Homo sapiens: one gene and its partner. The protein of the gene in region 2 interacts with the protein of the main gene of each other region in a pairwise test. Each region holds a gene or a part of one and is shown on either strand. Other genes may lie near its edges.

Region 1 (4,384 bases), on a different chromosome or scaffold from region 2:
GAAAAGGGCCTAGCATGTTGTAAGTGCTACTAAGCATTTGCTATTATTATTACTTTAAAAAATTGTCTTTGTTTCAGGGGCTCGAAATAATCATATATGCATCACTGGGACATAAAATAGACTTTGTGTATATTTTTTATTGACTTTTTTCATAAAGGCTATTGTAAGCACTGTATCATCACTAATAATTTTACAAAATATGTTATTTCACCTTAAATGAACACAATTTAAAAATTGTGATTTTTTTTTTTTTTTTTTTTTTTTTCTTTTGAGACAGAGTCTCGCTCTGTCGCCCAGGCTGGAGTGCAGTGGCGGGATCTCGGCTCACTGCAAGCTCCGCCTCCCGGGTTCACGCCATTCTCCTGCCTCAGCCTCCCAAGTAGCTGGGACTACAGGCGCCCGCCACTACGCCCGGCTAATTTTTTGTATTTTTAGTAGAGACGGGGTTTCACCGTTTTAGCCGGGATGGTCTCGATCTCCTGACCTCGTGATCCGCCCGCCTCGGCCTCCCAAAGTGCTGGGATTACAGGCGTGAGCCACCGCGCCCGGCCAAAAATTGTGATTTTTATTGGCAGTTGGGACCAGAATCCCATGCCACCTCCACTTTTTCCTGACACCCCATCTGTTCTATGTTATTAACAGAGCAGAAATACTGGGTTCCTTCTAGAATAAATAGATGTGGCTAAACTTCAGCTTTGACACTAAAAGATTAACCTTTTGACAGGGTCAACATGTATCTTAGCTATCTTAAGGCTACCTATGGAGAGTACCAGGTGTCAAATAAAAATGTATTACTGTTTGGGAATCATTCAGGAACTATGTATTACCCCTTTTGTTGATTATTTTTAACTAATCACTGACCACAGATTAATATGTTTTATACTTTGGGACAGATGATTCTAAATCATAACATTTGAGTCCTAGTTTTATGAACTACCCAAGGACACTGTTCCACAGATATATCTGGATGAAGTTTGGCAGTTAACTATTATAGACTCTTCCTAGTACTGGAAAAAAGCTTTAAAATATATTTAATTTAAGTTTAGAGTCAAGACAGCCTGAGGCTAGTGAGTAACATAGATATTTTAGGAATTAGTGTCTTTAAGACTAACATAAGTCAAACGTTTGTACACTATTTTTGACATGTACTACTTATTATTGCTGATTGAGATTGTAATACTGTATTATTGTCTTCATTTTGCTTATTTAACACTGAATTTTTTGGTATTAGGTACTGTACTGGGGTTGGGAAGAAGACTTAATTAAAAGTTACTAAAAGGTTCTTCTTTCAGGGAGTTTACAATGTAAATATAGGTGACAACAGGCTATAGTACTATGTGGTAAATTGTAATTTTGTCTAGGACAGAAGTCAGCAACTATAGCCTTTGGACCAAATTCAGCTGCTGCTTGTACACCACCACACCCCTTCTTTTATGCAGCTTTTGTGCTACTATGGCAGAGTGAGTAGTTAGAGACTTTATGGCCCTCTACAAAGCCTAAAATATTTACTATTGGCCTTTTACAGGAAAGATTTGTTAATCCCTGATCTAGAGGAATTGAAGTCTTTGCAGAGGAGATTTTAAATTTAGGCCTTTGGAAATGTGAGTAAGATTTCATTCCAAGATTGCCAGGAAGAGTAGAGAAAAAGCATTCTAGGCTTAGAAAGCAGCAACAACAAAGAATGGTACTAGACGGATAGCATGTTTGGGAAACTAGGTAGTGTTCTGGGCTAGACATAGGGAAATGACTGGAAACATAGGATTGGGCCAGATTGGTAAAGTCTTGCAAAACATGAAGATTTTGAATTCTAGTCAGCAGAGATCATTCACAATTTTTAAGGGAAGGGGATATGATATGTTTGAGAAAGAAAACTGATGAGAGTATTATTGATGATGAGTTGGAAGGAAGAGAGACTGCAGACAGAAAATACTATTTTTTTCGCTGAGGATGGCGAGGGTGAAAAGAAAATACATTTAAGAATAAAAAAGAGGCTGGGCTTGGTGGCTCATGCCTGTAATCCCAGCACTTTGGGAGGTCAAGGCGGGAGGATTGCTCGCTCACAGGAGTTTGAGACCAGCTGGGGCAACAAAGTGAGATCCTGTCTCTACAAAAAAATTTTAAAAAATTAGCCAGACATGATGGCACATGCCTGTAGTCCCAGCTACTTTGGAGGTTGAGGTGGGAAGATTGCTTGAGCCCAGGAGTTGAGGCTGCAGTAAGCTGGGATCACGCCATTGCACTCCAGCCTGGGCAACAGAGCGAGACCTTGTTTTAAAACAATAAATAAATTAGAAAAAAAACAGTATTCTCAGTACTATAGGACCTGATTAAGTTTGTGGGACTGAAAATGATTTATGCTTTTCAAATATGGAATCTAGCTGTAAATGTTGCTGTTATCTTTTGGTTGGGGTAGGGGAGGCAGCTGCAGTTACTATGGTGGTAGTGGAATGAGTTTGGAGTCCAACATGTCTAACTGGTATGTTTGGATAGAAATTTCCGAAAGACATTGAGAAATACAGTTAAAGCTGTATTTCTAGCATTACCTATAATAATTTTTAATTTACTTTTGATGTGATGTTTTTGGATTTGCCGTATTCTTAAGTGATTTTTACACATTAAAGGTCTAAGAAAGTATTTTGATGAAGTACATTTCTGATAGTATGTGTAATTAAATCATTTGAAAATACAGTTGCATGGACAGAAATTTGGAGTTTTGTGAAATAAATGAAACCCACCTTAACTGCCTCTATATCAGTTTACTAATATTTTCATTGAAAATAAATATATTCCTTATAATTAAATTCTACTTTGTGGAACAAGAATAGAACCTGAAGGCATGGAGGAGAGTCATTATAAAGTTATATATTAGGTAATGTTTTTGCTGTCCAAAATGATGAGCATTTATAATTCCCAAGAAAAGCTGCATTTTAAGGAAGAATATTGATAAAAGAATATATAGACACATAGCTCTGAAATAACTAACACAATTAAAGTACCAGTGGGATAAGAATTTATACATCTTGGAGCCCCATCTGTTCCCCAATCACCCTGTTGCTTCTTTAAGTACATTAATACTTTCAGCAAGCTGCTTTTTTGGTTCACCTGTCATGTAAATTATTTAATTGGTGAAGAAAATTTCTTAACACTTTTTTTCCTTGTCCTGCTTTTTTGTTGGGACTAAATTCAAAATAAGTTGAGTATGTGCCATAGAGTTAAGTGTGGTATTTTATTTTGGTGTTATGGCTGTAGATATGCCAGCTTCTTTTTGACTGAATATTTATGAGCTTTGATGATTTGCATACTTACAGTAATATACTTCAATTAGTTACTTGGAAGCCTTTTTGGATAAAATTAATGGATAAAAGGAAACTATTGAAAATATGTGTAGATGATATAATAGTCATTTGAATAGGTGATTATTGAACCAAATACGGGTGAAACAGCAGCAAAACAACAGCTTGTTGGAGACTTCGATTGTATTTTTTTCATTCTGGGTTCCTTAAACATTCCAGTATTTTCCATCTATAAGCAGTTGCTTTTTTTTTTTTTTTTAATGATTCTGTAACCTTCAACAGGACCGAGTTATTTTTAATAGCATAGTAAAGGCCATAAATACCTTTTCTTGTAGTGGCAGATAGTGTATATAATTACTTCAGAGATACTTATTTAGATACTGTTAGAATTTTATTTAGTAACTTACCAATTTTTATGCCATAGATTTTTATTTTAATTTTTATTGTGGCTATTGATTAAAGACTGGTAAAATTGAAAATACTTAAGCTTATTACTATGTTATTACATGTGATTATATTTAGTGTATTAAAATACACAATTACCATTGAGGTTTGAAACTACATTTATTTTTAGTTAGTTGTCTGAGAGTGATTTATCCAAACAAAATGGGTAAGCTTTAAGGAGACCTTCTTTGCAGAGGTTTTTTTTGGGTGGGCTTTCCTGCTATAGTCAGATTTGATCCTATTTACTACTTTGTAAATTTTGGAAAACCAAGAGGTTCTTCTAATCACAAAGGTATTAGTGGAATTTTCAAATGCTGTCTGAGATTGTGCCTGTGTCTGCGATGGCAGTACTTTTTGTCTCTTGCAGTTTTTCTTGTTTTGAAGTTGGATTAAATTTGAGGAAGAATCAGTGTTAGTATGACGTTTAGTCAGCAAGCAGCTTTTATTTAGTTAGCTCCAATTATTTTGTTGGTATGTCTCTCCACAGGTAGATGACACACTCCTTGTGTGCTTGATGTCAGTGGAGCCTAGTACAATTCTTGATAATAGTAGATCTTAAATAAATATGGTATAAATGTAGTCCTTTTTATTTTGCCTCTGTGTGATATAGTTTTGCTTACTTTTATAATAAGACAAGTTGCTCATGA
Region 2 (4,593 bases):
CGGTGGAATGGACTGCAACGCATTAGATACTGCTGTTATTCTTCCAGGCCACCGCTCAGCTAAAAATAATTGTGTGTGTGTGTATATATATATATATGTACACACACACACATATATATACACACACACATATATATACACATATACATATATATACACATATATATACACACACATATATATGTATATATATACTACATTCTTGATCCTAAGTCTTTTTTAACTTAAATTTTATTACTTATACAGAATTCTTATTTATACTTTAATTATAGGTGTGACGAAGAGAAAGAGAGTAGGGAAATACACAGGCAGTGGTTTTAAGTGTAGATGATGGCTCCTTAACCCAGTGTCATTAGATAATCAAACCTAAAGTCTTCCCATATTAGGCAAGCGCAATTCTCTATTTTGGACCCTTCCCATTCTTCCCTTACCTTCTGCTTTTCGTACTGAGGAATTTCGTGTGATTTTAGATAAAGTGATAATGAGATATTGAGCAAATAAGAAAATAGAGGTAATGCTATAAAAAACTAAGCTATGTACACTTTCAAAATGCATGTTTCTTGCATGCTTTTTACTACTTAATTGCATTCTTTGCTAATTTCCTTTCCTTGCTGTCTGTTCTTTTCTAACAGCTGAAGAATGTTCTGCTGACTCTGACCTCAACTTTCTTATTCCTGTTGCAGTGGGTGTGGCCTTGGGCTTCCTTATAATTGTTGTCTTTATCTCTTATATGATTGGAAGAAGGAAAAGTCGTACTGGTTATCAGTCTGTGTAATCAGTTAAATCTAGTGTTTGTTTGTTTTTTTCAATTAGAAGTTACGTTTCCATTGGCTAAAAGCCAGGACATGCTGTGCAATAGATTGTTTAAGATATGCAGACTAACTTCAGTGAGTTCCTAGCTAACTTGGGCATGAGTACACTTATTTAAGACAAAATATATTAGGACCAATTTTTTTCTGTTTTTTTTCTTCCTTTGTTAAAGTATAATTAAAAGAAAAATTGTGGCTTAGAATTTTTTAAGTAAATAATGATTTTAAGCCCCTGGATCCAATTATGAAAGCATTTTTGCTGATGTGTAATTTTATATGTTACAGTTACTTATATTTTACTACTTTGATGTTATTTGCAAAATCAAAGGTGTTAAAGAATTTAACTTGCTTCAGGAAATAAATTCAAGAACATAGTGGATTCATTTTCATTGGTGGCAGACACGAAATTTGGTTCATGATAAGACTTCCTTTCCCCACCTCCTGATCAGCATTATTTAAATCTGTATTTTTCTGTTAGTTAAGAAAGAAATGGCTTCATGATATTGTATTTAATAGCAAAAGTTTGGCTGTCTTCTTCATTACTGTTAATAGCTACTATATTTTAACAAGGAGATTTCTTTTTTTGTTGTTGTTGTTCTAGAGTTTGGAATATACTGATTATCTCAGACTTGACATTTATACTGAAGGATGAAGTAAGACCTCCAGCTTTTTTTAAAAAAGGTGTTGATTTGGAACACCTGTATGGGTTATGGTTTATTAAGGTTATGGTTTAGAAAGTTTTTTTCCCTCAGAGCCTTAACTTGTTAAGAAGGTTCATTTATCCTGCACTGAAAACAAAAACTCTATATACTTTGTTTGTGTGCCTCCTGCACTCTCCCATTCCCTATGTGAATATGCTCTAGTTGATATTTTTAATATATTGATTTCTTTTTTCTCACAGCAACAAGTGCTTACTCTAGAGGTTAGTGGGCCCTGATATGTCATCAGTCAGATGCCTGCCTAGCCAAAGCTGGACTAAGATTATTCTGTACATTTGTTGATCTTGATATAGACTTATATCCCTGTAGGGACTGCTAATGGCTCCGGCTTCTGGAGTAAGGTACTGGAGACCACTCATCCCTGTGTCTGCTTGATTGGTTCAGCTGTTGAATTGCCCTTTTATTTGGAAGCAGTGTTGAAGTTGTCTAGGGTTCAAATGGCTGCTTTGTACACCTGTCATTAGTATAAGGCAGATGTTTATTTTATCAAGCTATTTTATCTCTACATTTAACTAAAAACAAAAGTTCCCAAAGATCTGCCTTCACTTCAGAAATTTTTTTTGGATTAAAAAAATTAAGCCTGAACCTTAAATAAAGTGAGTTGGTTATTCATTCCAAGGATTAAGTCCCAATCTACCTCTCAGCACAATGCAGAAGCTCACCACTGTATTGCTGCCATTAACTCATGCCAGAACCCTTTGCCAATAACTGGAATTACAAATTTTTGTTAAAGAAAATTTATCAAGATCTTTCTTTACTGCCTTCTCTATATGTACATCTCAAAAACATGTACATCTCAAAAACTGGAGTAGAAAGTTAGATTGCTCAACTACAACTCCTCTAGAACTCTATAGCTCTGACATACAGATTCACACTCTCCTCTATTTGCTAAGTATGTAAAGAATGTTTTCTTTTAAAATGTTCTCTTTTGAGAACAACTGCTTATTTGTTATAAAAGCATTTGGTTAAAATGATGTCATCATAAAAAACAGTGGCTTTGTTTCAATACATATTTTTGAGATGATTATCTAGAAGCCAGATTAATAAAATCAGCTTGTGACCTTGCTAAGCATATAAACTGGAAATTCAGATACATTCAAAATTATGGGTTCATTTAAAAGTGTTCTACCTTTTGGGTATGAGACTAATATCACTAATTCCTCAATAGTTATCATGGCTCTATCTTAATTAATTAGAAAATATGTGTGTTTAATTCTTTGAGAATTAAAATAGAGAATATTAACAGAGGGTTAAAAACTGCTTCAACTCCAATAAGATAAAGGAAGCTCAAAATCTATGAGCTGAGTGTTCAATTAGCTTTGCCTACTGAGTTCAATTTTATGTCAATACAACAGTGGATCAGACAGTACGACTTTGAACTGGTGAATGTAAACAATTGTTTTTCACCTAAGCTGCTTTGGAAGAACTGATGCTTGCTGCTAACTAAAGTTTTGGATGTATCGATTTAGAGAACCAATTAATACCTGCAAAATAAAGCATACTGTGGTACTTCTGTTTGATCTAGTATGTGTGATTTTAGATTGATGGATTAAAAATTAATAAAGATCATACATTCCATACCACTATGGATAACCTCATTTTTATTCCATATGCTCAGCCTTAAGAGCTTAGACTTAATTGTATAATCTAAGTTTCTTGAATTCTAGTCTCTTGGATTGTCAACAGGAATCATAGGATCTCATAGATCTGCAACTTAACCAAGTCCCGTCATTAGGAAGGCACTAGTACAGAACCTTTAGTACAGACACCTCAAATAGGGGGACCTACTTAGTCATGGAAATTACAAGAAAACATCAAAAACAAAATATGGAAATCTAACAAATGTAAGAACATCATAACAAACGTACTTTCCGCGTATGTCTGTCTGCATTGATGAACTATACTAATTGTTGAAGTTCATTTCATTCTGAGTGAGATATACCTCAGGGATATGGTGGGGCAAGGGGAGGAGCTATCCATTTTGTGAATTTCCTTTAAATTCCTTACAATCTAGTCTAATGCTTAATTTTTATATAATTGGATAAAACAACAACACATACATAAACATACTCCTTTTTACATGAGAGGTATTTTTGGTGGGAGAAGGAATTAGACATTGGCTCCCTCCATAGTTCCAGAATAATAGGGTTTCATTTTCTGAAAGACGTTTAATAGCTTGTAATTAAGTCAAAAAATGGCCTTCATAACTGCCACCTCATGAGGCCTCTGAAAGAAGCACTTTAAGTTGACTGATAATTAGGAAGAGTGGTTCGATATATGTTGCTGTGAGGGTTACAGTGTATCTAAAAAGTCAACTTGGAGGGTCATCTTTTTAACTTCAATGTGTATACTTTTTGAATGCCAGAACTGCCTTTAGAATTCTGATGAAATGTTTTTCCTTTCCTTTGTTTTTACTGTCTGCATGTATTTTGATAGCAGTGTAAGTTTGGGTCCCTTTAATTTCAAGAGGTATGCATAATGAACAGGAGAAATCTTGCCATACAATGCATCTTTAGTAGGAAAAATCCATAATTTTATTGAGCAGTTACAGTGCTGTGCACTTTAAACACCTTATTTCATTTAATACACCAACTCTCTGAGGTTGGGGGTATCATTTCCAGTTTACATATGGGATAACTGAGGCTTGAGTTGGTTACTTAACCAAAGTCACACAGGATTAAGTGGCAAAATGGACATTTGAACCCAGTTCTGTTTGCCCGCCAAAGACCATGCAGTTAACCACTATACATCTGCCTTTTGCAGAAGCAATAGATTTTTTTAAAGCACATGCCTTACATTAAATGGTTACAGAAATCTGACTTCTGTACTCTTCTATCTTGTATGTAGTTGCCTTATAAATATTCTTCAATATTCTTAAAATAACTTGAGTTTTATCCAGCCCACTTGTGGGGCAGATGGATGTTGTGGCAGCATGCCTTTTGGAAGATCAAAACCAAGGCCAGTTTGCACTGTACCTCATCAGTAATATTAAGCCCGAATGTCACTTTTTTCAGGGTAGCCTCATCTAGTTATTCTGATCACATATCATTGTCATTCTGCTCTCA

The links. The genes of interacting proteins can lie anywhere in the genome.
Region 1: the proteins of LAMP2 (region 2) and CETN3 interact in binary tests that used the Homo sapiens proteins (3 or more experiments, as listed by UniProt).

Annotation. Positions count from the first base shown.
Region 1 is NC_000005.10:90,399,757-90,404,140, reverse strand, and holds part of CETN3 (centrin-3), read left to right. Parts: intron 1-4,384. UniProt on the Homo sapiens protein: Plays a fundamental role in microtubule-organizing center structure and function. As a component of the TREX-2 complex, involved in the export of mRNAs to the cytoplasm through the nuclear pores.
Region 2 is NC_000023.11:120,424,666-120,429,258, reverse strand, and holds the end of LAMP2 (lysosome-associated membrane glycoprotein 2 isoform A precursor), read left to right. Parts: 3' UTR 1-632; coding exon of another isoform or gene 633-775; 3' UTR 776-3,111; downstream 3,112-4,593. UniProt on the Homo sapiens protein: Lysosomal membrane glycoprotein which plays an important role in lysosome biogenesis, lysosomal pH regulation and autophagy.